2 separate regions of the Homo sapiens genome follow, and region 2 is linked to region 1. Evidence: fine-mapped expression QTL. A gene starts in region 1. The other region holds a variant in brackets. All regions are shown on one strand. Distances are from middle to middle. Region 1 holds the start of AP1S2 (adaptor related protein complex 1 subunit sigma 2). Region 2 has its middle 58 kb from the start of AP1S2.

What was found. PIP is the estimated chance that this variant, and not a neighbour inherited with it, causes the effect.
Region 2: its variant is fine-mapped to the expression of AP1S2 in whole blood (TOPMed, PIP above 0.99). The same link has a PIP of 0.9 or more in blood mononuclear cells and monocytes.

What each region holds. Positions count from the first base shown.
Region 1 is chrX:15,846,866-15,862,207 of GRCh38, reverse strand. AP1S2 (adaptor related protein complex 1 subunit sigma 2) reads left to right here and starts at 7,395. Exons shown (of 6, transcript NM_001272071.2): 1 at 7,395-7,520; 2 at 9,684-9,862. The coding sequence starts at 9,684. RefSeq lists silencers at 6,979-7,088, 7,179-7,458, 7,679-7,968 and an enhancer at 6,757-7,361.
Region 2 is chrX:15,905,065-15,920,406 of GRCh38, reverse strand. It overlaps the pseudogene RNU5F-7P and the pseudogene SETP15. Among named protein-coding and RNA genes, the nearest start is that of AP1S2, 58 kb to the right of the region's middle. RefSeq lists an enhancer at 10,829-11,741. The variant ATCT/T (reference allele first, on the strand shown) is at 7,456.

The DNA.
Region 1 (15,342 bases):
AATTAAAATGTTCCTGTATTCTAAATAGTGCTTTAGGATAAATATTTTAACTTAGCTTTTTGTATAGTATTTAGAAGACAAGGATATAATAGAGTCAAAAATAAATCTCAAGCTTTGGTTTTTTGATTCTAAGAGGTTGATGATAATACTGTATTCACTTTTGCCAATTAGGGACAGTTTACCCAAATGTGCTTGCCCACCACCCCACTTCACTTCCTCAGCCCTTTCAGCCTTACGATTTTTTAAATTTTGCCTTTTCTATTGCCTAGTATTAATGCTAGGCTTTGTCAGAGGAATGTAAAAAAGAGCCTTAAATCATTCTTTTTGCCCTCTTTGATAGACAAGTAGTTTAAAATTCTGTGCTCAGACTGTTTAACAATTCTTCTCAAATTTCAATGGAAGGGAGACATATAAAAGAGCACAAAAAGCAGGATTAGAATCAAGTATCCACTTGAAAATTCACTTGCTCTTCCCATCACTATGCATGGCTCCTTCTCTTTGTAACTAAGTATGCAACAAGCTTTCAAGAATGAACAGGAATGCTTGCAGCTGTAACAAATGAACCTGGGAAAAAAAATCAGTGGCTTAATACAAAGTTATTTCTCATTCATTTCAAGTACAATAGGAGTGATGATGGTGGTAGTGGTTTGTGTACGTCTCTTCCTTGCAGTCATTCAGGAACTCAGGCTGGCAGGATACCTGGGTGTCATCATCCAAGTGGCAAAAGCAGGTCTGGGGAGGGAAGGAGGGAAGAAGGAAACAGACTTTCCTGTGGGAGCTTTTTATAGGCTAGACCTGTCACTTTTATTCCTATTTCATTGGCCAGATCTCAGCTCCATGGGCACACCTAACTACAGAGGAAGCAGCGGAATGAGGTCTAGCTGTGTGCTAAGGAAGAGAACGGGCAGGTTTTGATTACTACTTAGCGGTCTCTGGTCTCTGCCTTACCCCTGGGACACATTGATTCTGTCTAGCTGTTCCCTCTGGACTTCTTCCTTTCTACCCCATGTCTTTAATTGCTGACAAAGTATTTCAGAGGTGACTCCTACTTGCCATGAGTAGTTGGGAAATATTTTTAAGGTAGTGATTTTCATCAAGTAAGCATCTGACTTTTATGATGCAACCTTCGAGTTTCCCTAAGCACTTCAGTTTCTGCCTTAGAATATTATAGCTGGGAAAACTGGCTAGCCATATGTAGAAAGCTGAAACTGGATCCCTTCCTCACACCTTATACAAAAATTAATTCAAGATGGACTAAAGACTTAAATGTTAGACCTAAACCCATAAAAACCTTAGAAGAAAACCTAGGCAATACCATTCAGGACATAGGCATGGGCAAGGACTTCATGTCTAAAACACCAAAAGCAATGGCAACAAAAGCCAAAATTGACAAATGGGATCTAATTAAACTAAAGAGCTTCTGCATAGCAAAAGAAACTACCATCAGAGTGAACAGGCAACCTACAGAATGGGAGAAAATTTTTGCAATTTACTCATCTGACAAAGGGCTAATATCCAGAATCTAGGAAGAACTCAAACAAATTTACAAGAAAAAAACAAACAACCCCATCAAAAAGTGGGCAAAGGATATGAACAGACACTTCTCAAAAGAAGACATCTATGCAGCCAACAGACACATGAAAAAATGCTCATCATCACTGGCCATCAGAGAAATGCAAATCAAAACCACAATGAGATACCATCTCACACCAGTTAGAATGGCGATCATTAAAAAGTCAGGAAACAACAGGTGCTGGAGAGGATGTGGAGAAATAGGAACACTTTTACACTGTTGGTGGGACTGTAAACTAGTTCAACCATTGTAGAAGACAGTGTGGCAATTCCTCAAGGATCTAGAACTAGAAATACCATTTGACCCAGCCATCCCATTACTGGGTATATACCCAAAGGATTATAAATCATGCTGCTATAAAGACACATGCACACGTATGTTTATTGCGGCACTATTCACAATAGCAAAGACTTGGAACCAACCCAAATGTCCATCAGTGATAGACTGGATTAAGAAAATGTGGCACGTATACACCATGGAATACTATGCAGCCATAAAAAAGGACGAGTTCATGTCCTTTGTAGGGACATGGATGAAGCTGGAAACCATGATTCTCAGCAGACTATTGCAAGGACAAAAAACCAAACACTGCATGTTCTCACTCACAGGTGGGAATTGAACAATGAGAACACATGGACACAGGAAGGGGAACATCACACACCGGGGCCTGTCATGGGGTGGGGGGAGGGGGAGGGATAGCATTAGGAGATATACCTAATGTAAATGATGAGTTAATGGGTGCAGCACACCAACATGGCACATGTATACATATGTAACAAACCTGCACATTGTGCACATGTACACTATAACTTAAAGTATAATTTTAAAAAAAGTAAAAAAAAAAGAATATTATAGTGCATTAGATTGTGCAGGGCATACAATGACCATATGTCATTCTCAGTTGTACATACAGATTTAGCTTCAGGTGAATATAACTGGGAATATTACTCTTCTAATGTTCTCGGGCTTAATGAGGTCAGCGATTAAAAAAATATTCAGATCTCAAGTTTCCTTTAGACCATGAAAATTATATCACAACTTTCTAGTTGGATATCATAGCTTTTTGTGGTATAGAGCAATGGTTCTCAAAGTGTGGTTCCCAGACCAGCAGCATCAGCATCACCTGGAAACTTGTTAGTAATGCAATTCTCAGGCCTCATCTCAGACCCCCTGAATCAGAAACTATGGGAATGAGGCCCAGCAACCTGTATTTTCACAAGTCCTCTAAAAGAATATTCTAGAACCACTGGTTTAGCGATTTGGAGTTGAGTTAGATCATTGTTGAAGCATTTCACTTCAAGGATCAAATCAAGACATTATTTGAAATCGTTTGTTTAAAACATACAGAATCTCTCTCTTATATTGCTGTGAATTAAGAGTGACATAGAAATTCATCGAACGAAAATATTGCGAAGAGCCCTGGGAGGTCATGAGAGCACATAGTTTTCAAACGTGTTGGTTACAGAAATCTAAGGTTCTATGAAGCATCTCTAGGGGTCTCCTAAAAGAAAATGTTCATACGTTTGGTTGATGACTATCCTTTGACCATCCAGGGTTTGTCTCTAAAAGACTAGAAATTCTGTGTCAGAAGAAATGGAGCTTTAGGACCAAGTCAATATCTTATTTGTCTTTATATCTTCATTACCTTCCAGAGTGCCCCAGCATAAAGTAGATACCTAACAAACATTTACAATGTATGTATGGATGGAATAGGCATCTCATGGATTCAAGTGCTTAAGTAACTTTTACTAATATTCTGGGGTCATTTTTTGAAAATCAGTTTGGATAGTTTATTCTAGTTGCTATTAAAGAATACTGACTGCTTTATGTATGCCTCCAGTCTTTTAAGCAGTTAAGGATTTTATCTAGCAGATATTAAGAATAATGGCTCCAACTCTGAGAAAGAAAGAGAGGGAGAGAGAGGGAGAGGGAGGAGAGAGAGAGAAAGAGAGGGAGAGAGAGAGAGAAACTTATATGAAGATAATGTTTGTTCCATTTCTTGAAATGTCTATAAAAATATGCTACTGCATGTTAATATTTTCAGTGACTAACCCAGGATTTCTTCCTGAACCTTGGCACTAGTGACATTTGGGGCTGGATCATTCTTTGCTATGGGATCTCTCTTGTATGTTGCAGGATGCTGGGCAGCATCCCTGGTCTCTGCCCACTAGATGCTGGCAGCATCACCTACTACTCCTAGTTGTGACAACCAAAATGTCTCCAGACACTGACAAGTGTCCCCTGGGAGGCAAAAGTGCCCAGGCTGAGAATCACTGCTCTATCCTAATGTTCATAGGGCAGTAGTAATTTTCCTGCATTTTATTCAAAGCTATGGAAACAGGCTTCGAGAAAGAGCATATGTTCCACATTTCTCTTTAGCTCATTGTTGAGGACTTTGGCAGTGACAGCTCTATCTATTTTGAAATGATTTGGTTCACAAATCCTCATTATTTTAGGCCATTTTTCTCCCTGGAACAACTTTATCTTTGGAGATGCAAATTCACAAACTCTAAACATCTTTTTTACACTTTCTGTGATCTACAAGGCTTCAGCACTGAATTCCATTATTGGGCATTTTTATTTAATAATTTCTAAATAATCTATAGACTGGCTAAAGGAACTCTGTATAAGTCCATAATACAGAGCTAGCAACTAATGGAATGGTTTTTATCTACCTCCTTACAATATTTTAAAAAATTATTTAAGAAAAAACCTAAGTAAAATGTAATAATACCCTTTATTACATCCTACTGCAAGATTCTGTCCATGGAAAGAAATTCACCATTGCTTCTGGGATTTACTTCCTGGTATCGAAAGAATATGCTAATAATTCTAGTTCGTGATTTATTTTAGATGTTATCTATTTTCTTCCCTTTAGCACATGAGGATTTAGCATTATTTCAACCTTCCCTCACTTCTGCTCCTCCATAATATCAATATATGACAATTTTTCTTTAAATCATCAGTGTTTAAATGATGAGCTGACAGTGTATCCTGACATCCTTATCGACATCCTCATGTAAATGTTCCCTCTCTTATTTTCCACGTGGGTATGTGTTTTAAATAGTCCCTTTAAAAAAAATTAATGGTATTTTGAGACAGTGAGAGGATAAAAGTATATGGCCATCACACATTTAATAGGAAACTAAAATTATTTTTGAAAACTTTGGAAAGATTACATAAAAAGTCTCAAAATTTTATCGTTAGAAGGTAAAGATTTCTATTTTCCCCTCACCTCTTACATTTAGCATAAATGACAGTGAAGCATTTTTTTCAAATTTAAGAAACAAGTATAAAATCTGATTTTTAGTTTTTCATGAAACGAATTTTGTATATAATTCTTGTATCAATATTAACACCAATAAATCAGGACCATCTAGAAAACAAAAACAGGATTAAAAAAGATAACCAATTGACATGACGGATGAAGAAGACACTAGGTGAGAAGAAACATGTATATAACAAAGCCTACAATTGGGAAATTGTGGGAATCAAAGTCAAGCAGTTAATTACTAACAAAGATGGCAACCATGTTTCTTTTGTCTTTCACAGTGAATGCATAATTAGCACTTAATACTAAGACTAGGGAATAAACCATCTATAATCTATTGAAAAAGACCATCTGCTTCTATAAATTTTGTTCTCATACACTTGCCAAAAGAAGAGAACATATTAACAAAATAATGGGCCCTGCACTGTTAATTGCTAGGTTGTTTGCAGTTGTGCTGTTGCTATTAGAATTTAATAAGCCATTCCTTCTGCTAAATTAATAAGCAGCCAAGATTATGTAATAGCTGCTTTCAGCTGCTAATTATTTTTCCCACAATTCCTTCCCCTCCCTACCCCTACCCCCACCTTTTTTTGGCTAGGAGCAGGAAAGGAGACTGCCAGTATGTCATCAGCAAGTCTCCCGTCCTCATTTTCAGAGCAACATTAGGAGCATAATCAGAGTTTAAACTTGGAAGTGGCTATCTCAGGAACCTTCAGGATATAAGTGTTTTGTACAGAAAAAGAGAAAAGCAGCATTTGGATTCAGAGGGCGAGTTTTCATTGTGTAGCATTAGAGCTATCTTTTAACTGGTTAATGGCATCTGTTTCTTGTAGTAAGAGAGAAATGGGACATTCGAAAGCACCTTTGGGGCATGACTAGGTAGGGAGAAATCTGGTGGGGGCGAGGGGGACCTAAAGAACTACAGAAAGCCAGCTCTGTGCCGTGTGTCGTCCCCTTTCTTTAATATTCCAGTATACATTAATCATACATGTTAGTAGGAAACTTTCCAAGCAGCACAGTAGTGCTTGAAAAGGGGAAGTATTACACATTTCTTTTTGTTTTGTCATACAAAAGCATTTTTTAAAAGCCCCCAAAACTACTGTCTTAGTTTCATAGATACTATAATGTACACAAAAAGAATATAATCCCTAATAAAGGATTCCTTTACATTGATTACATTTAGCTTCGTGAAAATTTTAGCATTTCTTTTTTTACTTTAGGCCATTAAAAAAATTCTGGCGACTATACTTAGGAACCTCTGCAAAAGGGGCATGGCCCAACAAAAGCAATTTTCTCGCTTCCTTTGTAAGAACCTAGGTGACTCGGGTAATGAATAGCATTTCGATATGGGAAACCCGTGGCTCTTCAAGGAAGGTCACCTAATCCCGTGGGACTCCCCTTTCCTTATCTGTAAATGACTAGATGATTCATCCATTCTATCATTCAGAAAATTATGAACATCCATTATGCCCAGGCATTACGCTCAGCATTACAGCTCTTAACAAATTTATCATTTTATAGTCTTTATCAGTCAACTCACATTTATTAGTTGTTATATACCAGGCTGTGAACTAGATTGAGATGCAAAATGAATACAATTTAAGGTGTGCTAAATAAAGGCTAACGGGCATGTGGGTGAAAGAGGGAATCGCTCTTACAGGGTTTTAGGGTGAGGCTTCATAGATGTGACATTTGGGAGCAAGGACATGCCAGGCACAGCAAGTCGTCGGCAGTGCTAAACTGGAACCCAGGCGGCTGGTGGGGCGACCCAGTGTGAAGGAAGCGGGATCTCGAAGGTGAGGTGCTGTCCGGGCTTTTCAGCCGAACGGACGGTAACTCATCCAGTCCGCAGCACCGAGGATGGGCGAGGCGAGCCCAGGGAACAGACTCCCGCGAAGCTCGGGGCGGAAGGTGTCTGGGCTAGGGCTGGAGCAGTGCAATGGGAAGGAGAGGGCGGATTCCGGACAATTTTGAGGCAGAATGATAGCAAAAGGCCCGTGAATGCGTGACGAGCTCCACAGAAGAGCTGACTTGTTTTTCCAGAGTTGCAGCACTCCCTCGTCTCCTCCCACCCTCCTCGTCAGCCGTCACACTTCACACTTCCTCTCTGGGGACACAGAGAATCATTAGAGCTCGAACGTGGCTCTTCGCTGTCCGGAACTTCCCTGCCCCGCACCACCCGCTAGGCTAAGGACGCTGCAGAATCCCGTCCTCCTATCATTAAACAAGCAGGACAGCCGCCCGCGCGCGTCCCGGAGGCACCTGCAAGAGCGCGCGGGCGCGCGGGCGCTCGGGCCCGGCAAACGCCGCTTCCGGGTCACGTGGCCCGGCTTCCGGTTCGCACCTCCCCTCAGCGAAGAAACCTCCAATCGGCTGCCTTGGACTCAGCGGTTACCCGCGCTGCCTCCGGTGCCGCTGGCGACCGCTGAGCCGCTTCCCGCGCGTCGCCTAGCCCGCCCCTCAGCTCGCCGCAGCCCCGGCTCCTCCCTCGTCCGGCCCCCGGGGCGGGGTCTGTCAGCTTGCCCTCCCCTCTCCGCCTAAGCCTGCCCTATGCCAGCCGGGTGTCCTCCCCACAGCACCACGGCTTCTCTTCCTCAGCACGGCGACAGGGGCTTCCCCTTCGCCGCCGCCGCCGCCGCCGGCCAAGCTCCGCCGCGCCCGCGGCCCGCGGCCGCCGTAAGTCCCTGGGGGCGAAAGGGGGCGCCGGGGATGGGGGAGAGGGGGAGGGAGGACTGGGCGCGCCCCCCGCCACCCCGCGCGCGCCCCGACGACCCCACCCCGAGCCTGCCCGGCCCGCCACTGGGTCGCCGCGCCCGCAACTCACTTCTCTCCGTGTCCGCGCCCTCCGCACCACTCCGCGCCGCGCCCGGGGATGTGGGGGCCAGTCCCGGGCTCCGCGACAGCCTCGCGGCACCTGTGGTTCGGGAATCGCCTCAAGTTTTGCGGGGCGCTTTCGGGAGGGGCCGGGGGCGGTGGCGGCCGAGGACTCTTGGCGCCCCCTGCGCGGCGGCGGATGCCATTGTCTGCTCCGCTCCTTGCCTGTCACCTCTCCCGGGCTTGGTCAGTGATGGAGTGTGGCCACGGGAGTGGGGGGGAGGCACCGGCGACGGCCGGACCCGAGGAACGCTGGCCCCGAGCCCGCGCCGCGGCTGAGCCCATTGTTTTTAATGCCAGTCTCGAGGAATTGTGGTGCCCTGTGATTTGCGGCAAAATCAAAGCGTTGGTTTTTAACACGAGGGAAGGAATACTCGTGCTTTGCAACCGGGTTTCGTCCCATGTTAGGACATAATTTATTTTAAGGAGAATACATTGTTTTTTCGTCCTGCAAAGTGGTAGGGCGGATACAGGACCCTGCTCCAGACAGCCTTGAGCCCATACTCTTCGCAGGCAAACCCTCACCCTTTCTGGTCACCAAGATCTAGGAATACGAGGTCCATTCTTTTCCAAGTTCTGGTAACGGGTTTGCAGTAAATGCCCAGTTGATGCTTCACTTCCTGCCCCCTTCGAATGCCGCTATCTTCAGGACTTGCACGGGAGGCACTTTGGTATCACCTAATAATGTCCTTATATTTTGTTCCCCTGACGCATTTTAAGTGAGGTAATAAGACCATTTTAACTTTACTAAAGTTGAATTGCCACGTCATACATTTCTAGATATCTTGTTGATACCTTTTTGGGTGGTTACAAAAAGCGACGATAATTTCTTACCGAAATTTAGGGCCCATTTTTATTCTACATTGGTTCTGTAAATTTCCCCTCCCCGTGTTCAAATTCAAGATGGTGTGGTGAATCTTGAGAATCATGCTTGAATCTTATTTGCAGTAACGCTGTTAAAGGAACTTAACAGTGATTAAAAGAAAAAAGGATACCTATGTGAATTCTGCCTTTAAATTACCTTTGTAGAAACAATACTTCTGTTTGCAGTTGAGATGACCAATTGGATTACAAAAAGCTTGGCGTTAAAAATGAAACATGCAGACTAATCAACACATTTGCAGATCACAAATAAATACATACAAATTAGTTTAAGTATAAAACACACTAGAATTCAGCATCCATTCCATCTGTAGATACTATTTTTTATTTTAAATGAAGTATTTCATGTAATGTTTCAATGCTGAATCTTATTTAATAAGTGTAAATCTTATTGTGGCCTTTTAAACGTTTGTTTTCTTTTTCATAATACATTAACTCAGTTCTAGATTTTGTACATATTTAAGTTGGAATGCTTTAAAAGTCAGATGAAAACATACTTTTTTATTAATGAAAATTTGTATTTATGGGATTTTTCAGTTAATATTTTGGATCATTCTGTTTTGCTTAAAATATGCCATCATAAACTGAGGAGAACATTCCAAGACATAAGCTACTGTCTGCAAGTAATTCACCCTGGAACTAGAACGGCCTCAGGATGAAAAATAGCAGGTCTTCTGTTTCTTTCAAAAGTACCCAAACCAGATGATGTCTACCATTCTCTTTTGATGCATATAGAGAGTGCGCAATGTATAGCACAGGTAGAAAATAGTTTCTTAAATTGAAAGAGTGATCTTTATTTTTCTTCAAAAATTTCACTTCAGCTTATTACCCATTTTTCTTTTTTCTCCTGCACACTCCCCTTCAAACTTAATGTGGAACAAGGTGGGATTGGAAGGTTTGCATCTAGAGGAAGATCTGTCCAAAAGAATTTCTTGCTATTTTAATTGGCATAGAAATATTGATGGCTACTAATCATTTGTCATGTAAATGCCCCATCCCCCAAAACTTCTCTGTGAAACACATAATCTTAACTTTATTGATTCAAAGTATTACATGTAATCTTGATTTTATTTATCTTAACAGATGCAGTTTATGTTGCTTTTTAGTCGTCAGGGAAAGCTTCGACTGCAAAAATGGTATGTCCCACTATCAGACAAAGAGAAGAAAAAGATCACAAGAGAACTTGTTCAGACCGTTTTAGCACGGAAACCTAAAATGTGCAGCTTCCTTGAGTGGCGAGATCTGAAGATTGTTTACAAAAGGTATAATTTTTGTTTGTCAGAAAGGTGAAATAGAATCAAATGTTAGGTCATTTAGGAAATTGCAGACTTCAGTGATGACATTTATAAATAACGATTAATAAAGATTTAGATGAAATAGGTTTAAGGTAAAGCTTTGTGTTTTTAAAATAACTAGTGTTTTGATTGATAATTACTGAGGCTGAAATGATAAAGGCAGGGAAATCCTTTGAAAACTAGTTATATAATTAAAGGCATAAATGATTATTCATGCTTAATCATCTTTATAGAAGAGTTTAATGAATTCATTTCATTGCAGGGGAAAGTAGGGTCAGTATTTTAAATTGTGTGAGTAATTCTCTGAATTGAGACAAGTACAGATAGAGTCTAATTCTTTTTCCCCGAAAATCTATAAAGTAATGACTAATATTTGACATGCCTTTTATCTGATTTTTAGAATCTTACTCACGTGTAAATACCTTGACTATGTAGACTATTTCAATCACATAGATGTTTTAAAAACTTTGTGTATACATGAGATGTGTTTGTAAGTAGTGTTTATTAACTTTTAAGTACCCTTGTTGCTATGGTGGGGGTGCAATTAAATATGACAGATAATTTTTCCAAGGACAGATTTTTTAAAAATTTGATGTTACAAAATGACTCATAGATTGGCTTTTAACACTAAAATTTTTTTAATGCTATACGTCTTTATTTTATAAATATCTGAAACCCTGAATACCCTAAAATAAATTTCTCAAGATTGTTCTAAGTAGGTTAAAAGAAATAAACTTTCTTCTTTTACAGAACATTTTTTGAGGGGACATTTACTTCATTCCCCATTTGTTTCTTTTTGAATAATTTGCTGAATTTAAGATAAGAGCATTTCTGCATATAAAAAGTTCTCTTGTGTGGGGAGTATACATGGAAGTAACAGTATGGGATACAATGAGGGTGGGAGAGAAGTCTGGTTTTCTTCTCAGCTTCCCTTTATTGCACTCCAAATATGGGTTGGATATTTTGTCAGGGAGATGGCTGGGAAGAAATGGAGATTACAAGACATAAGTTTCTTAAATACTGAGGACTCCTCTTTATTATTGAATGATCTTTGGTGATTTTGTATCTTTGGGTGATTTTGTATCCAGTGTTTCGTTTGGTCTTATTAAAGATTATAGAAAAGTCATATCATTTGAGAGGTGAGAGATGTTTTACAGTGATCTAGTCAGGTGATTTTGTTTTGTTTTGTTTTGTTTTAAGCTTTTTGCCCCATGGGTAGAACCTTAAATAAAATGAGTGGAAGTGAGGCTGCTCCTTGTGAAATCAGGAATGAGGATCCTGTATCCTGGCTCACTTGGCCTTTACCCCTCTGCACAGGAGACAGTTCTTGAGTTTGAAAACTGCCGTTGTTGATCAAACTTCAATTTTATAAAGAATGCAAATTTGGGAGAAGTGACTTGTCTAGGGCCATATGCCAGTTAGTGATTGACATGGGGCTGCAACTCAGATCTTAAGCTTAGAGGCAAAGATTTTAAACAGGGCTGGAAAAAGATCAGGTTTACATATCTTAAAAGATTGAACTGAGACAATGGATGAGGGCAGGAGGGGCTGAGACTGGCACCTGCAGGATCAGTAGGAGACTATGTGAGATCCTGAACCCAGGCGCTAGAAAGGAGGGCTGTCACTAAATAGCCATTATCAAATAGGTAGGTTTGATAAGACTTGGTCACCTCTAGAAGTGGGAAGAATATGGGAGGTCGAGGCAGGAGAATCGCTTGAGCCCAGGAGTTCAAGTCCAGCCCTGGCAACTTAGTGAGACCCCGCCGTCTCTACAATTAAAAAAAAAAAAAAAAATTAGCTGGGCGTGGTGGCATGCACCTGTATTCCTAGCTGCTCTGGAGGCTGAGGTGGGAGGATTGATTGTGCCTGGGAGTTCAAGCCTGCACTGAGCCCTGATTGGGCCACTGCACTCCAGCCTAGGTGACAGAGTGAGACCCTCAACGACAACAACAAAGCGGAGAGAGCAGCGAAGGAAAGGGAGGAGTGGGGTGATCTCCACATTTCTGGTTTGCTGATGGGGTACAAGGTGAGCTAGATAACTCGGCTTATTTTGGGGTGAGTTGATTTGGGGATGTCTATGTGACTTTCATTAAGAGAAGCCTGATTTTCTGGTGGGATGTGGTTGGTGTAAGTATGGAAGTCTGGGGAAAATAAGACAAAGTATTAGATCACCAGCATTCAAGTGGCAGGCAAAGGAGATGAAGAAGGGACCTTCAGAGTGGAATGAGAAATTTCACCAATGCCAGATGTTGCATAAAGTTCAATGAAAGTGAGGAAGGAATCTGGTAGATTTTACAGTGAGCATTTCATATAATGCCCTTTGCCAGAACATTTTCAGTGGAATAGTGGAGATAGAACTCTCGATGTAATGGGGCGAAGTGTGAAGAGGTGGAGAAATTTAAATAGCATGTGTAGACTATTTTGGGGAACTTTGCTGTGAAGGACAGGAGACGAGGTGGTAACCACTCATAGACATAGGAGTGGGGGACAAGGTTTTTAAAAAAGAAGGTGTGAGAGGCTTAAGCTTATTTCTAGATAGGGGAAGGAGTCCCCCGTGTGGAGGAGGAAAATACCAGCAAGGGATTCAATCCCAGGAATGGGCTGTTATGGGAAGAAAGGAAAGCACTGCTTGGTGTTCATGCACATGTCACTCAGTCTGTCCGTGTTGAGCCACTACTTTTTCTTTTGAAAGCTACAAAGGGTATCTAATCCAACTCTGATACTTATATCAAGCACCTTTAAATAAAAGGTGGACTTTAAAAAAAACAGCTTTATTGAGATATCAGTCATATACAAAAGGTGGAATTTATCAGTTCTTTCTCTATACGTTCCCCCTTCCATTTCATACTGAAAACCTCATCTACTCTACCACTTACGGACATATTTTTTGTTGGTATAAACAGGTGGTTTGTTTTCCCTACTGCTGGAAGCGAAGAGCTTTTTAAGCAGGAGAATTACTGCTTAGCGCCTGAGAAATTCTGGACTGGGACTTCTGCTGTTCATATCAGCAAGTGATTTTTGTTGTTTTTGTTAAATTATCTCATCTACATTCTTCATCCTGAGTATTTGGCATACAAATTCCCCCTTTTGAGAGGGGAATGATGGATAAGAATAATATTAGCTGAAAAGACAGACTGAAAATCTGGGGACTTAAGTTCTGTTCCCTTTGTAACGTTAGCTAGTTTTATGACTTTAAACAAGTCACTTTGTTTCCTTATCTCTAAATGCTCTTGAAGATCCCTTCAAGACAGAATACTGTGCTTTTTTGATTCCTGTTTTGTGTAGCATTTTGTGGAAGAGTCACTGGATTAAGGTCTTTTAAAATTAATTTAAAAACATATATATCTCCAAATTACTAGCTTGATAATTTGTTAAAGAATACTTACTGATTTTCTTTACTAACAAAAGAATTTTTAATGACATACCAGTGGGTATTGAGAACACTTCAGCTACATTCACCCACAGTCAGCTGATATTTAGCTGATATTTAGCTGACTGCGGAGAAGTCATGTGTTTTGAATATAAGAATAGGCACTTTCAGATGTTCTCTGAGTGCCAGTAATTAGAGTAAGCCTTAATCCACTGTGCTAAAAATAACCAAACATACCTTTCTTCTTACTAGTCTATTATTAATTTTACTTCAGATTTAGACTTACAAATAGGCACTAAGAGAACAAAATGAGCTCATTATTGATTTTTTTAAAACCATTTGGTCCTAAATATAGGAAGTACACTTCAGGTTCTCTTGGTAATCTTTTACTAAATCAGTATGGCATATTTTACTTCTCTTCAAAGCTCTTAAAATATTGTTTCGAGCACATTTTAATTTTTGCCAGGTATGGGATTACGTTAATGCAATTGCTGGCTATAGTTTTTAATGTAAAACTTGGGCTCTAGAGTCAAATTGCTGTTCCTAGGCAGGTTACTCAAACCTGGGTCTCTTATCAATGCAAATAATAATGGTATCTCATGGATACGGTTGTTGTGAGGATTAGAGTGGTAAAATATGCAAAAGCCTTAGCTAACATTTAATGTCTCATGTAGGGCGAGGATTCAGTGAATGGTACTTAATTATTATGTTTCTGTTTTTTTCCTGCCCTAAGCTTTCTGGAAAGAGGTACATTATTATCCTGATAGCTATCTGTTCACCTACACCAAAGAATTCATTAATTTGATTATTCTTTTTCCATTCCGAGTGAAAGTAAACATTACTGGCTGGGGCTTAGACACATTGTTTCTGATGATTTTTAAATTAATGCTTCCAAGTGATTCATGCAGTTTAGGACCTTTGACTAGTGTTTAAGTGCTTTTTATTTGTAAGTAAAGAGGCAGTACTGTGGATAAGGAGCGAGGATGGTACGAGCATTAGCTTGTTTAATAGTAGCATGAGGAAATCTTAAATAAAAGGAATTTTACTTGAAACTGTTAGTAAACTTTGTATAATAAATTATTTAGCATTCTGTTCCTATCAGCTAGTCATATCTGGTTTTTAATCTACCATTTTTATGTCAGTCCCTTTAATGTTTAGTTTTCTTAAATCAGGGAATCTTATGTGTCATTTATCAGTTTCCTCAAATTCAAAGTTCTATTTAATGAGCATGGGTTAGGGAGGATGGAGAGTTGGAATACTCTATTCTCTTTTAAATAGACAAACAAAAACAGTAACGATGGGAAAGAGAGGGAGCACTTTGTTAAAGTTGGCATTGATGCCCTGTTTTGTCTTCCATGACTTATTCCCTTCACAATGATGATAAATGAACACATGTGAATACCTCCTCTCAATAAGACTGCAGTAGCTCCACCATTTTAAATAACTTACTGAGTGTGGAAGTCAGGTAGAGTAGACATGCACAAACTCATGATATATATGCCAAGTGAGTTTGTATGATACAGTGGAAAAAGGCCTGGAGTTAAGGTCAAAAGATCAGGTTTCTTATCCCAGTACTAGCACTTGTAGGCGCTGTACTCTTAAGCCTCATTTTTTTTTTGTCTTTTTTTAATCTGTGATCAAGGATGAAAGATAGTACTTGCTGTTGAAAACATCAAATAAGATGAAATGGTTTTAATAATGAAATTAATGCTGTTGTGTGAATACTAGTTATTTTCATACTAAGGAGCAAGAATTCATTGAGTCTCAAAACAGGTTGTGTTATTCTGTATACAGTATTATTTTACATTAATGCTACGAGCAGTAACTGCCCATTGTGTTTTCTAAAAATCATTTAAGTGATCTTCAGTGAAAATTATAATCTCCACTGAAATGTTCTGTGTTTAGCCTATCTTAGGTTTTTATTTTCTTTCTTTTCAAAAGCCTTAAGTACATGTAAACCATTTTAAAATGCCCTTTTAATCCTCCTCAAAGGACTTGCTATGCCTCAGGGTTGAAGTTTTGCTTCCTTGGGTCAAGCATAACATGATTCCATATGCTAGAATCCTAATTTGAAGGA
Region 2 (15,342 bases), 58 kb before region 1:
AGAATGGAAGGCACTCTTCTTTGTTTGGACAAGAAGAATCAAGAGAGGACTTAACTCATTCTTGGAGTTGACAGCAGTGAAAATAACAGCAGTGATAACAGAGCATGGGCAAATCATTTATTTTTTTCCTGCATCTAAGTTTCTTTAGGTGATGAATCGCAATGATGAAATGAGAAAAAGAGCAAAGGGACACTAGAAAAATTAACCTAGTGTTTATGACAATTCGACAAAGGAATAATAAAAATTCTTATAATTCTTTTTTGTTTTTAGAGATGGGGTCTTGCCATATTGCGCAGGCTGGAGTGCAATGGCTATTCACAGGAACAATCATAGTGCACTACATCCTTGAACTCCTGGTCTCAAATGGTCCTCCTGCCTCAGCTTCCTGAGTAGCTGAGACTGCAGGCATGTGCCACCGTGACCAGCTCTCTTATTAATATATGTCTCATCTACATTAGCAAGACTATTATGCAAACACCCAGAAACAATAAACAACCAAAATATTTATAGACAGTGGTATGGATAAATGAATTGTGTACATTCACCAAATGAAATGTAAGGGCACTAGTTGTGGTGTTTTGTTTGTTTGTTTGTTTGTTTTTTGAGACAGAGTTTCACTCTTGTTGCCCAGGATGGAGTGCAGTGGCGTGATATGGGCTCACTGCAACCTCCACCCCCCGGGTTCAAGCGATTCTCCTGCCTCAGCCTCCCAAGTAGCTGGGATTACAGGCGTCTGCCACCAAGCCCAGCTAATTTTTTGTATTTTTAGTAGAGACGGGGTTTCACCATGTTGGCCAGGCTGGTCTCAAACTCCTGACCTCACCCACCTTGGCCTCCCAAATTGCTGGGATTACAGGCGTGAGCCACCGTGCCTGGCCAAAGGCACTAGTAAAAAGAAATGAATACCAACTACAAACGATGATACGGATGAACTGATAAATGTTAGAAACTTGAAGGAAAAAAACACTACATACATTATTATGACATTTGCATAAAGCTCAAAAACAAGCAAAACTAAACAAATTGTTCAGAAATGCATCTGGTAAGAGTAATTTTTTTTTGTTTTTGTGTACACATTTAGTCTTTTGTAACAAAAGCAACTTGTACACGTTTAACATTTAAAACTGAGCATCATCTTTCCTTTCCAGTAAATCAAAATTTAAAAATAAACACGGACAAAATTACAATAGAGCATGCCAATTCCAAATGAGATCCTACAGGTTCTGCTGATTCTTCTAGCAAGTGGCAGGGCTCAAGTCATCAGTAGGAGAGAATTCATTTTTAGTGTCATCTTAAACTGCAAGGATGCCTGGTAAACATCAAAATTATTTTTCACCAAACTGATGCTTAAAAAAAAAAACCACAATTAAACATACCAAAGGAGAAACCATGTTGTCAAAATGCCCACTTCACCCATCCAAACATCTCAAACCTAACCTTTACTGACTTCCTAGAACCCCATTTTAAAAAATTCTTTTTTATGTTTTTAAACAAGAGAAAGTAGACGGATGCATGTTGGTAAATGCTAATTGTCCTTATTCACAAAGAGACACAGTGTTCTTTCTGAGAAGGAAAAAAGCTAGAATTCTATGCTCTACCACACAGGGGCCTAACACCCTTCTGCTTCCAGCAGAGCAAAGGAAGCAGATTTTTCTTTTTTCCCGCAGAGCTCAGTGGTGTTGATTCCATACAGTTTTCGTTGAGACAGAAAGGGATAAAAATGAATTGAAACAGAAAGGGGTAGAGACTCTTTTCCCATTGTATATTGCTCAAGGTGCCTCTTCTTCCTCTTCCCCAAGCAGTGCAGACACTTACAGATGTGAAATTACTTTTGCAAAATTATGAGAGTAAGATAAATCTGACATAGTTGACTCCATCTTGCTTCTAACCTCCAAGCTGTCCTTTGTCATTCCTGGGTATAGGCTAAGCTAATTTGAGGAATAATTTAGTTTAGAGTTTAACCAAAGCAAGGATGATAATAGCCCTTCCCAAAACTAAACCACCACCACCTTTGTAAAATGAATCAAAGCCCACAAGTTTAGGATTATGAGAGGGGCCAAAATTCTGTTAAATTGTAAGCATAAACAACTGTTCCAGGGTTCACAAGATTTGTAACTTCCCTAATTACTTCTGTAGGTAACATCCTTACTGTAGAACCTAAGGTTGGCCTTTCGAGATATTTTTTCAGACTTCTGCATTTCTGATGATGGGATGACTCTACTCAGATGACTCTACCTGGACTGTGACTGCAGCTCATGACCCAACTGGTCCTACAGCCCCCACTTAGAGGCTGACTCAGTGCACAAAGACCATTTTCCACACCTCTATGATTTCATCCCCAACCAATCAACATTTCCCATTCCCTAGTCCCCTGCCCACCAAACTATCCTTGAAAACCCCTAACCTCCAAGCCTTTAGGGAGACTGATTTGAGTAATAACTCCATCTCCTGCGTGGCCGGACTCGTGTCAATTAAACTCTTCCTCTACTACAATACCATGGTCTCAGTGAATTGATTTTATCTGTGCAGCAGGCAGGAAGAATCCGTTGGGTGATTACAGATGACTGACAAATGCTGTTACCCCAAAATTTGGGATTTGGGGGATCAATTCTGACCTCTTCTGAAAAAATGGTTGGCAGAGTTTGTTATATTTCTGTTCTACTGTCAAAATCTTCTCACTGGCTAGTTCATTAAATCTATTTCATTTTTTACTTCATCAATATGTTCAATAGCTTCTTGTAGTTTTTTTTCTCCCTTCTTCAGCAAGCCCAGAAAGGCTGATGTCTCTGCCTGTCTCAGAGGAGAAAGTGGTCTTGGTTTCTCCTTTTGAGGCATGAGTGGAGAAAGGCATATGGGAGCTGTGTTGTGAGGAAAATCCAGGAACCAGACCACGAGTCTCCTGACTCCTTAGGAAGAAGCTCAGAAAACTCAGTAGTTTGTTTTTAAAGAAGGGGAATGCAAAATTCAGGAGAGCAGGTATTTTGGTGGGAGAGGCAGACATCATGGAGAACAACCCAGATATTAATGTTCCAGCCTCTGTGTGTTTATATGTCAATAGTCTTCACAACTTACATATATATTATACATTATATTTATTATTTATTTTATATATATAATATAGTGTAATAAAATTTTAAGATAAAATATATTTTCTGTCATCATATTGTGGGGCAAAGTCTTAAAAGATCTTAAGATCATTGATTTTCCTTGATAAGCTAAGGATTTGTAAGAATTGAGAAGAGAAACCAGGTAAATCTAAATTTTGGTGCAAAGGGCCCAAAGTGCATTTCTCCAGCCAACATTTAGAGCAGCCCCCATCAGCTGATACAGCAGTTTCCTGAAACCCAGGATCCCTTTCCCAGCTTGACTCCAAACACCTCAGAATTACTGAACTGGCTCATGTTAGCTAGCCGGCTGGCTTCCACCAGATAAGACCATTTGATATATCATGTAACCACTTTAAGAGTTTATCTTTTGATTCACCAGGAAAAATCTTCAGTCCAAAACATTAAACGGGCATTTTTCAAAGACTGGGAAAATAATGAACATTATCAGCAGTTTCCTGCCATTCTTTGTGTCCTTGATGCTCCACGGTGAGAGTTCATGAACTAAATGGGGCGTATTGGAAAAGCCTTTTGGAGCCTGGATTTATGATTGGGAGTTTTCCTTCTGAGTACAATGCCCTGCACATCTAAGATTTGTTTTCAAAGAGAAATGGAACTATCTGACATATTTCTGACTTGGTTTTTAATTCCTCTTGTCCTCGTGTTAGTCTCATATAGAAAGTGTAGAGGAGAGATGAGGAGTAGGGAGGAGAAGAGGTGGGGACAGGAAATGGAAAGTAGCAAGAAAAGGGGAAATGTAGAAGAGAGGGAAGGGGGAGGGAGATGGGGAGAGGGAGGAGGGAAGAGGCATGGCAAGAGGAAGTGGGAAAGGGAGTTGGGGAGGATAAGTCACAGACTGAGCAACCACAGTTCCTCACACTGTGCTTGATTATTTCCGTAGAGGTCAATCCATTTACTTCTTATAATCTGTGAGCTGAGTCAGGAAGCTTGCAACTCAGTAAGGCAGAAGCCTTAGATTCACACAGCCAATAATATTGGATGCTCTGGTTTCTCTTCAGAACAAATAAATATTTGGCCTTTTACTAAAGATTTCCATGGAGAGGAACAATTATTAATTAATAACCAAATTTTTGAGGTCCTGCTTAGGCAGGGCCAAGTAAATAATAATAAATAAATAAATAAATAAATAAATAAATAAATAATGATTAGATTAAACTCCAGATCTTTCTGACTCTGAAACCAACTTTCTCCTAGTGCCCACCTCTGGGAACTGGAATTCCCAAAGGCAGTAATTTATTAAGGAGCGGGGTCCGGGGCAATACGATGGGGACCCCAAATATGCAGGGTATGCAAGGGCAAGATTAAAGGAAACTAACAAGGAATGGTGCATTACCTTGGCGTTAGCAACTTCCTGAGAACTAAGCTCTGGGAGAGGGCTACCCAGGCACCACAACCGTCAATACAAGAATGCACTAATGACAGCCTACAGGGAGGCAGGGTAGGGGTCACAATATATCACCCACCCTTGTCTACAACCCTCCTCCAAAGCTCCTCCATGGAAAACTCTCATTTGCCACCAAAAAGAAGAGTATTTGATCATTTTTGACTAGGCTTGCTAACAATTTCATTGAACAGAAGGTAACAAAAGAAATGCGACAGACACTTCATTCTGAACAGTCAAGAACAATTGATTAAACAGAAGTGTGAAGAACCTTTGAATAAAGGGATTGATTGTGTTATCTGAAAATCCAAAGGCAAGGAAGGTAAAACTGGTTGTAGACTTTAGGAAAACACATTTCTACTGATGCACAGAAAAGATAGAATCACAGAAGAAATAGTATCAGGGGACTCTAATCCAAGCTAGAAGCTCTGAAAATATACTTCTGGCTATTTAATAAGAATACCATAGGCCAGGCATGGTGGCTCACGCCTGTAATTCCAGCACTTTGAGAGGCTGAGGTGGGCAGATGGCTTGAGCCCAGGTGTTCAAGACCAGCCTGGGCAACACAGGGAGACCCTACTTCCACGAAAAATACAAAAGTTAGCTGGGCACGGTGGTGCATACCTGTGGTCCCAGCCACTTGGGAGGCTGAGGTGGAAGGATCGCTTGAGCCCAGGAGGTTGAGGCTGCATTGAGCCGTGATCATGCCACTGCACTCCAGCCTGGGCCACAGAGCGAGACCCTGTCTCAAAAAAAAAAAAAAATTGTAATACTGTTTAAAACTAGAGAAATAATTTAATAAACAAATTTTGCTGTGAGCTCAGGTGTTTAAAAGGATAAGAAATGACCACAACAACCTTTCCCACCTCACTTGGACTCTAGGGAAGGTTTCGAGCATCCTGAACAAGGTGAAATTCTCACATACTTGAGGTCAAAGCTCTGAGCAGGAGGACTAAGGGCTCTCTTGATTCTTTCCTCTGGGCCCCAGCAGAGTGCCACAGGCATAGGTTGAGAAATCCCCATCAGAGCCTGGAGGGGTCCAGGAGAAAGAAATGGAAGATGGCTGCTCAATGATCACGGGTATCCAGTCCTTCAGTCAACAAAAAGGGAGCTCTTGACCTTCCTACACAATCCATCCCAAGTTCCCAATGCAGGTGAGCAATTAGGGATGCAGAATATGCTAGGAATAGGAGCATGCATTTATCATCCAGGGTCCTGCCAGGAAACAGATGGCAAACTCACATGGGGTAAGTGAGAAAGGTTTAATAAAGAACTCTCTATAAAGGCAAGGGCAAGGTTAAAGGAAACTAACAAGGAATGGTGCATTACCTTGGGGTTTGCAACATCCTGAGAACTAAGCTCTGGGAGAGGGCTACCCAGGCACCACAACCATCAATACAAGAATGCAGCTAATGACAGCCTACAGGGAGGCAGGATAGGAGTCACAATATATCACCCACCCTTCTCTACCGCCCTCCCCAAAGCCCTGCATGAGCTGCACATTGCCAGAGGGCAAATGAGCCCTGATGTGGTCCATGGACCAAGGCAGACAAGAATGAAGAGTAGACCAGAGGGGCAAACAGAGAGTAGCCAGCACAATCATTCTAAAATTATGAGCATATGCATGGACTTAGCTACAAGGATATTCATCACAGCATTATTTGTAAAAGCAAATATATGGAAATAACCTAAATGTTAGATAGGGAGAAAAAAATGATGCCATACCCACATGAGGGCAGAGACTATCTTACCTATTTTTCTGTATAAACTGCAGCAATTGGAATAATGCTTTGCATAGAAAATATTCATTAAATATTAAAATGCTAGTGTGGGCCGAGCATGGTGGCTCACACCTGTAATCCCAGAAATTTGAGAGGCTGAGGTGGGTGGATCGCTTGAGCCCAGGCATGGAGGCACATGCCTGTAGTCCCAGCTACTCAGCTATCCAGGAGGCTGAGGTGGGAGGATTGCTTAAGCCCGGGGGGTCAAAGCTGAAGTGAGCTGTGATTGCACCACTGTACTCCAGCCTGGACGACAGAGTGAGACTCTGTCTTAAAAAAAAAAAAAAAGGTAGTTTAGGGGTACATTTACTGACATGAAAAGATGTTCATGATTCAGTTAAACAAGAAACAGGTCACAAAAATATGTGGTAATGATCTTATTTTATTTGATAGCTGGCTTCATAGATAGATACAGAATACAGATTTGGAAAAACATACATGGAGATGGTTAAAGTGATGAATGATGCTCAGAGGGAGACTGTTTTGTTTGGATTGGGTTGGGTTGGTTGGGTTGGGTTTGGTTAGGTTTGGTTTGGTTTGGTTTGGTTTGGTTTTGTGCTTCCGTTTTTTATTTCTCTGTAGTGAATACAGTTGTTTTCGTAGTAAGAAAAATACATCTTTTTTTTTCTATTTTACTTATAAAACAGTGTTGGTTTTCCTGGTGTTTTCCTTTCCCTTCCCTGCATTATCTCTTGCTCTATAACCTTGAGAGTGGCAGCAGATGGCAGGGCAAGCATGTGGATGGAGGGGAGGGGAGGGAATCCCACCATATGGGAATCATGACTCACAGCTTTCACAGCTTGTGGAGCACTGAGGACCAAAATACATACAGAAGAGTGGAAGGGGCTTAGAAAAAACCTCCTGCACAAGGCTCAAATCCTAGGAAGCTGAGATTTATAGTACATGCTGAGGATGACTAAAAAGTATTTTTAAGCTATATTGGAAGGAAGATGAACAAGCAGGGAAGAGCATCACTGCTAGGTAAAGATGTTGCATTACCAGATCGCAGGGAGGAGAAGCCTTCAATTCCCATTTTGCTTTAATCTCAACCATAAATAAGACTTTCTTCTTTATCTCTTTCTTGGCCATCATCATCACCAGCAACATCAGCATCATCACCACCATTAACATTGTCACCTCCTCCAAAATTACCACTATTATCATCATC[ATCT/T]CCATCCAGATAGTTAAACGTCCTAAGAACAGCAAATGTCTTATCCTCTTATATATGCTGGAACATTCACATAATCCTACATAGTTCAGTAAACATGAATTGACAAAGATGAAGGCTCTCTTATTAAATGAGAAGATAACATGATGCTGCTAGGAAGAGGTAATATATTGGATGAAAAGTTTGTAAACTTTGAGCCAACATTTCAAAGGGAGAAAACTTTTGAATCATGTATCCCCCCATGTTTATCTGTATTTATTTACAAATTATATACATGTTCTACCACTATAGTCCAATATTATATACATTATAACATACACATAAATTAAAATTTTTTAATGTTGCCATGAAAAAGATAATTTTTGGGTGGTTTGCACACCCTGCATGGGAAACCACTATTCAACATGACCGTATCAGAATCAAAAGTTTTTTAAATAAACCTGTAAAAGGAGCTGTAACCAACAACAGAAGATTAAATACAGATGAGGATCAAATGCTGCATTTTGAATTCCCAAACTGAGCCTAAGTTGAGGAATTTAATATGCAAGCGCAATCTTGTAATGCCAAAAAATCACCACCAGATGACTTGTAGCTCTAGTGATTTAATATGGGTGGACTGAGCAATAAGCAGCATTTAAAGAAAAGCCAACCTTGACAATTATTCAAATGTCCCAGATGGTGCCCTGTTCCCTCTACTATCACTATTTAACATTGCTGTACTAAATTGCTGTATTTTCTTTCTAGGGATTTATTGGAACAAAATAAGGTCTCAGAGGGCAGGAGCAATATGTGCTTGCTTCCATCACTTTTGGAAACTGCCTCAATACCCAGGCAACCAGAAATTTTCAATTACCCAAGAGAGCCCTGTTTCTCATCCCTATGGGGATCAGTATCATAGGGTCTGAGTTACTAGTTATTAACCACAACAGAAGGGGAAGAAGGAGGGGACCATCCTTGTTAATTCACCAGTCTGGTCTCCTTGCACAATTCTACTCAAGCCTAGATACTGATGTCATAATTTGAGGTCAGATTAGGGAACTTCTGCAGAAACCATCACCCCCACAGAAGGGAGATGAGGCAACCAGAATGTGCCCTGAGTAAGATAGCACTTCAGCCCTAGTGGCTTTATGGAAAGTGGTATAAGAATAGACAGAACAAAGACTTTGGAGTCAGACAGATCTACGATGGAATCCTCCATCTGTTGCCCGCTGCCTGTGTGACACTGGGCAAGCAACCCAACTTCTCCATTATAAAATGCAGTTAGGAAAATGTCATAATATATTTTAGGCTTATTGTGAGCCCTGGATATAATATTTTTGGATCATCAGCCACAGGATCCAGGCTCACCTTCTGCTTGGTCCTGCATAAATTTTAATACCTGAGGCACTAGTTTAAAACACAGATTGTCAGGTTTCTCCTGATGGCGTAAACGCAGGGTGGGTCCCTGCCTCTGGGGAATCTATATTTTTTAAGAAGCCTCGGCAGGGTGAGGTGGCTCACACCAGTAATCTCAGCACTTTGGGAGGCCAAGACGGGAGGATCACTTGAGACCAGGAATTTGAGGCAAGCCTGGGCAACATATTGAGACTCCATCTCTACAAAAATAAAGATAAAAATTAAAAAATTAGCCGAGCATGGTGGCATACACCTGTAGTCCCAGCAACTTGGGAGGTGGAGGCAGGAGGATGGCTTGAGCCCAGGAGTTCCAGGCTGCAGCAAACTAGGATCGTGCAACTGCACTCCAGCCTGGGTGATAGAGTGAGACCCCATTCCTTAAAAATAATTTTAAAAACAGAAGTCCCCTTCTACCACCCAGGTGATTCTGATTGTGAAACAAGTTTAGGAACCCCCGAACCAACAGTTATTTACCATTATTGTGAGCATTATTGATTGGTATTTTTGTTACTTCCTGCCCACCACTGTGGCACAGCTTCCCGGTCCCAGGGAACCATGGTCATAGAGCTGGCCCACTTTCTTCCACCAAAAGGACTGCATTTTTCTTTCCTTTTTTTTTTTTTTGAGACGGAGTCTTGCTCTGTCGTCCAGGCTGGAGTGCAGTGGCAGGATCTCGGCTCACTGCAAGCTCCGCCTCCCGGGTTCATACCATTCTCCTGCCTCAGCCTCCCGAGTAGCTGGGACTACAAGCGCCTGCCACCAGACCCGGCTAAATTTTTTTGTATTTTTAGTAGAGATGGGCTTTCACCGTGTTAGCCAGGATGGTCTCAATCTCCTGACCTCGTGATCTGCCCGCCTCGGCCTCCCAAAGTGCTGGGATTACAGGCGTGAGCCACCGCGCCTGGCCGGCACTGCATTTTTCTACTCTACTTCCCTCCCCCAACCCTCACCTTCCAATCAACCTGCTCTTTGCCATTTGTCTCAAGTGGATGGATCACATGAAGGCTTTGAACTGAAAATGACTTGCTGAGTTATGTATGCAGACCAGGGATATTTCATAAAAAGGGGCATAAACTAGAGAAATTCATTCTAAATAATGACAATCCTGGCTCAGTGGGAGATGTTTTGAGAAAAGAGATCTCTTAATTCCTTCCATGGCCTACTTGCTGATTCACTTGCATGTGCATAGGAATCACATGGAGATCTTGCTGAAATGCAGATTCTGCCACTATATACCATATTTAAGGTGAGCCTCTGAGACGGCATTTCTAATAAGCTCCTGAGTAATGCCATGCTGGTGGTCCAACGACATTTTGAATGTCAAAGGATGGTTAATGGTGAAGCAAAGAGAGCTACATCCCCAAATGCTTAGAAACTTACCAACACCTACAGCCTAAAGTGATCATGAATGCTGTAGAAAAGTTTACATTTTTCCCCTGAAGGTTCACTCATTTGAGCCTATAAAACAAATTGATGATACAAAGATTAACAGAAAAAAATGCCATAAATATTTATTACATGCTGGGAGTCACACAAAATATGAAAATGCAAAAAAATGGCCAGATGGTTGATGCTTTTGTACCGTCTTAAGGTTACAGAAAGAATAGGGGTTTAGAGCATGCAAGTCATGGGAGGTAGAGAAGAGGAAGAAAGGCATGGAGCAAAGGCCATCTTTTTATGTAGATGAAACTTCCCAGGGAGCAGCCCTCAGAAAGAATAGATGGTAGCCTGTGGTGAATGTTTCTGTCAGACCTTTAAAGGCGTCAGGCTCTCAGTCAATCTTTCCTAGATGTAGACAAGGGAGGAGCCTCAGAGAAAGCCTGGCTGTTTATTTCACCTATGCAGATTTTCTCTGCAGATGCAAATCTCCTCCACAAAAGGCAGTTTTGCTGGGCTATTCCTGTCTGCAGGCCCTCTGAATACCCATCTCGAAATATGTCAGAAAAGTATATTTGCAGGTGAAATATTTTTGGTTTGCTTTAATGTCTAGAATCCATTAATTTAGTAAAGCACCAACAGATAGAGCCTGTTCCCAGTAAACACACACACACACACACACACTCCACCAACAAACACCAAATCAGAACGTTAAAAATCATTACTTTCCACCAGGCAGAGGGCACTGATGTCAAAGAGCTTCAAAATTTATTTTAAAAGCATTTATGCAGTAATTTTAAACAATTGTTTAGCAACAATTATAAAAGTTAAGCAAAAGCACATAATGCTGTTTTACACATGATAGACCATACAAGATCACCAAGATAATTGTTGATAAAGCCAGCACTCCTGGAACCATGAAATTTTCATTAGCCAGTGTGGCACAGTCAGCTCTACAAATTTGAAAGGTTTGGAAAACATTCAACTACTGGCTACTGCTGTTAATGTTCTGTAGCAAGTTAAAGCACAATGTGAAACAATAAAATACTGAATGCAAGAGCTGGGAACAATGGAGCACAGTCCTGGCATTATGCAATCTGAGCAGCAACCTAATTGTAACTCTCAAAGGTCTCTACAAAGCCACTGGCTGGTCTAAACTGTTACACAGTTCAAACTCCTTAGCAGCAATTGTCTTTGGGAAAACCAACTCTACCTTGGATGTGTGTGTGTAAAGCTTCAAGGGACATGGATATTCAGGGTCACAAATGTCTTAAGTGATCCTTCAGTTCCACCCATCACCTATGAAAGCCAGCTTTGGCGCTTGCACAGATCCAAAGCCTCTGCCTAAGGCAGCTGGAACCTCTCAGAACAACATGGCAGTGTTTGTTTATAACCCATTTAAAACTGCCACCACTCTTGAGAGGACACCGGCTATGCCCCTGGCCCGGAGTCCACTTGCCCTTTGTCCAGAAAGCCTTCCTCCTCTCCCTGGAAACTTGACTTTTTAGCCTCCAGCTGCTAAGCTACCAGTCTGAGCAAAACAGCATCAAGCAATGTCAGGCAGAAACGTTAACTGTGTCTGCGGTTCTGCCCGTACCTTTGGGAAGACAATATTATACTCAACTAGAAGGCTAATCTTCTTCATATACTCCAACTCATTAGATTTTAACCTCTTGTGACTTTTTAAAGTAGAAAGGACAAAGGAGAAGCAGCTTGTTTATCGTCTAGGCTGAGACAATGGGACAACTGTGTAGTTTATCTCTGGTATTAAATGTGTCGCTCAGGTTTATTTATGCTTCATTTTAAATTTTTATTTATTTACGTATTTGAGATAGGGTCTCACTTTGTCACCCAGGCTGGAGTGCAGTGACTTGATCTCAGCTCACTGCAAACTCTGCCTCACAGGCTCAAGCCATCCTCCCACCTCAGCCTCCTGAGTAGCTGGGACTACAGGCACGTGCCACCACACTTGGCTAACTTTTTATTTTTTTGTAGAGATGAGGTCTCACTACATTGCCCAGACTGGTCTGGAATTCATGGGCTCAAGTGATCCTCCCGTCTCGGCCTCCCAAAGTGCTGGAATCACAGGCGTGAGCCACCGCACCTGGCCTATGCTTTAACTTTTGATTGATCTACAACACACATACAGGAAAGTGTGCAAATTATGTATGAACAGCTCAATGAATACTCACAAACCAATTATATTCTTTCAATCAGCACTCAAACAGGAAATGGAGCACTACAGCATCCCGGAAGCCCCTTTTGTGCGTGTTTTCAGTCACTATTCCCCAGGAGAATGACTATCCTGACTTTCAACACTCCACAGATTAGTGTATTTTCAAACTTTAAATTATTAACAACAATTTTTTTAAGTCAGGGTTTTTTTTTTAAATAATAACTTAAGGATCTTAATATTAAAGTCTTTTTTTTTAGGCCAGTCCAATTGCCATGGACAGAATCATGTCCCCCCCAAATTTATATGCTGAAGCCTCAACCCCCCAGTGTGACTGTATTTGGGGTTAGGGACTTAAAGAGGAAATTAAGGTTAAATGAGGTCATAAGTGTGGAGCCCTAATGAGATAAGATTGTGACCTTGTAAGAAGAGAATAAGAGAATGAGATTCCTATCCTCCAACCCCCACCCCCACCCAAGTGAAGACACTGGGAGAAGTTGGCCATCTGTAAGCCAGGAAGGGAGCCCTCACCAGCAACCAAATCTGCAAGGGCCTTGATCTTGGACATCCCAGCCTCCAGAACTGTGAGAAATAATATTTCTGTTGTTTAAGGCACCCACTCTGTAGCACCTATTTTTTTAAAAATGTATTTTATTTTCTAAATTAATTTTATTTTTTAACATTTTCATTCTTTTTAGAGACAGAGTCTGGAATGCAGTGGCATGGTCATTGCTCACTGCAGCCTCAAACCCCTGGGCTCCAGCAATCCTCCTGCCTCAGCCTCCTGAGTAACTGTATTTCACTTTTTTGAGTAAAAACTTTCGAGTAAAGTTTATCACCAAAGACCAGCCTCTGCATTTCAAAATAACACATTGGTTTTTGTCAGTATTAAGAGAAGTCGGGACACAAAATTAACTTAATACTGTCCAGTAAGAAAAGTGGTTTTATTAGATAAACATAATGAGACCTATGAGCAAAGTGCTGGGGTGCAAAGGCAAGATCTCCCTCTTCTATGAAATTCATGCTTTACTTGGAAAGTTTCCATTATTCCACATCAATGACAGGTATTAATGGCATTTCTAATGTAGGTTTAGGTGCCCTGACTTTGAAGTAATGCAATAAAACCTGTCCTTGCCACTGCCTTTGAAATCAGGGTGGTAGCTGCAGTGCCTCACACTAAATGTAGATATTCAACACATGTTGTTGATTAAAGAGGTGCCTGGAGGATTGTGAAGTGTAGCTGGAGTGAGAGAGGTGCCAAGAGGTGGCTCTCTTTAATTAACACTCTGTTGGGAAGAATTCCGCACGCCCAGTGGAATCACCCGTAGTACCCAAAGGGAGTGCAGTGATTCTATTTGCAAGCCAGTGTGATGAGAAGTGTTTCCACTGAGTCATATTTTCAAAAGCATCGTTTTTCCCTCCTGTAAACAAACACCAATTAATGTGCAAGATGTAACTTTCTTAGAGTTGAATAAAAATAACACAGCAATCGGGTGATATGCAATTTGCCACTTGTACTTTCAATTTACAGACCTATTGCATGCCACTTGTGTTGGTTAAAGAAACAAGAAATAATTAGAAAGATAGGCTAATAGGGATAATAAGATATTTGTGATATCTGGGTCTTCCTCATAGCTCAAAAGACACTGTTTATTATACTACATCCAAATATAAAACAAATGATCTGTCTCCAACATAAACTATTTAGACTGAAAACCAGCCAAATGAAAGCAGCTGCCACTAGATTAAAAAGTCATTTTCTCAGCCAACTCAGATTAAAAAAGAAACATTTTATGAACATATTTCTTCAACTCAAGCAGATTTTTATTATTCTCTGTTTCAGCTGCACATAAAAATAAAAACAGCATCTCCTGGCATGACCATTTGCTAGAAATTTAATTTCAGATAAACAGATGGTGCTGAACTAAAAATATTAGCAGGGTATCATCTGTAAAATTCAAATCATTTTAGTATATGTTGTCTTTAGTCTTTTTTTTAAAAAAAACAGAAGTTTCTTTTTATAAATCTATTACACTAAAATGTAGCAAATATTTATCTTCAAGAGTGTTGAACAAGGGGCAGTTGGCATTTCTCTTGTGTCCCCTACCTCTAGGGGCTCCTTAAAAGAAATACATTTATAATATACTATTCCTTTTCTTACTTCAGGACCCTGAGATAAATCTGGATACAACTTTTTAAAGGCCACAAATTGAAGTTAAAATTCTCTTTACTGGTTGACTTACTTGCTATTAAAGGCTTGGGCACATTTTGTGCACCTGGGGGCCCAAGTTCTATATGACCAACTTCAGTGAAATGCGTGGATGCAGATAAAGGAGAAAAAGGCTGGCGCTGCAAAGAGCTGAAAGACAGTTTCCCAAATTCCATTAATAATTAAAACAAAAAATTAAAACGGCCTCTCCAACTGCTCAGCAAAAGTTCTAACCCAGGACCAAAAGCTACAGCAGCTCTGGGGACCAACGAAGGCTCTAACTGTGATTCGAAGCATGGATTGGATTAAAGCTCATTTTCATTTTGTGCCATCTAACTGCACAGCATACATCAGGTCAAACCACATTAAATTGCCAGTATTCAACCAGTTTTGACCACCATATGGCTCAACCTGATATCTAGGTTGCTTCCCAAGACCACTATTTCTAAGCCTGCCCTTAGTACAAGAACATTATTCAATGAACATAATTAAAGACAAGTAAAGACTCAAATCTGAAATCAATAGTCTATGGTCATAAATGCTAAGGTATTTTTTAAAAATTGAGTCAACTTTTGCTGCTACCAGCATCCATAATTGTGAATTAACTAGTCCAGATAAATAAACAGCTTTAGCATTATATTACTGGGAAATAGAAAAAGACAAATCTTTATATGGAAATGTATTGCTAGCCTCAAAGGGATTAAATATGTATATGTATATTTAATATTATATA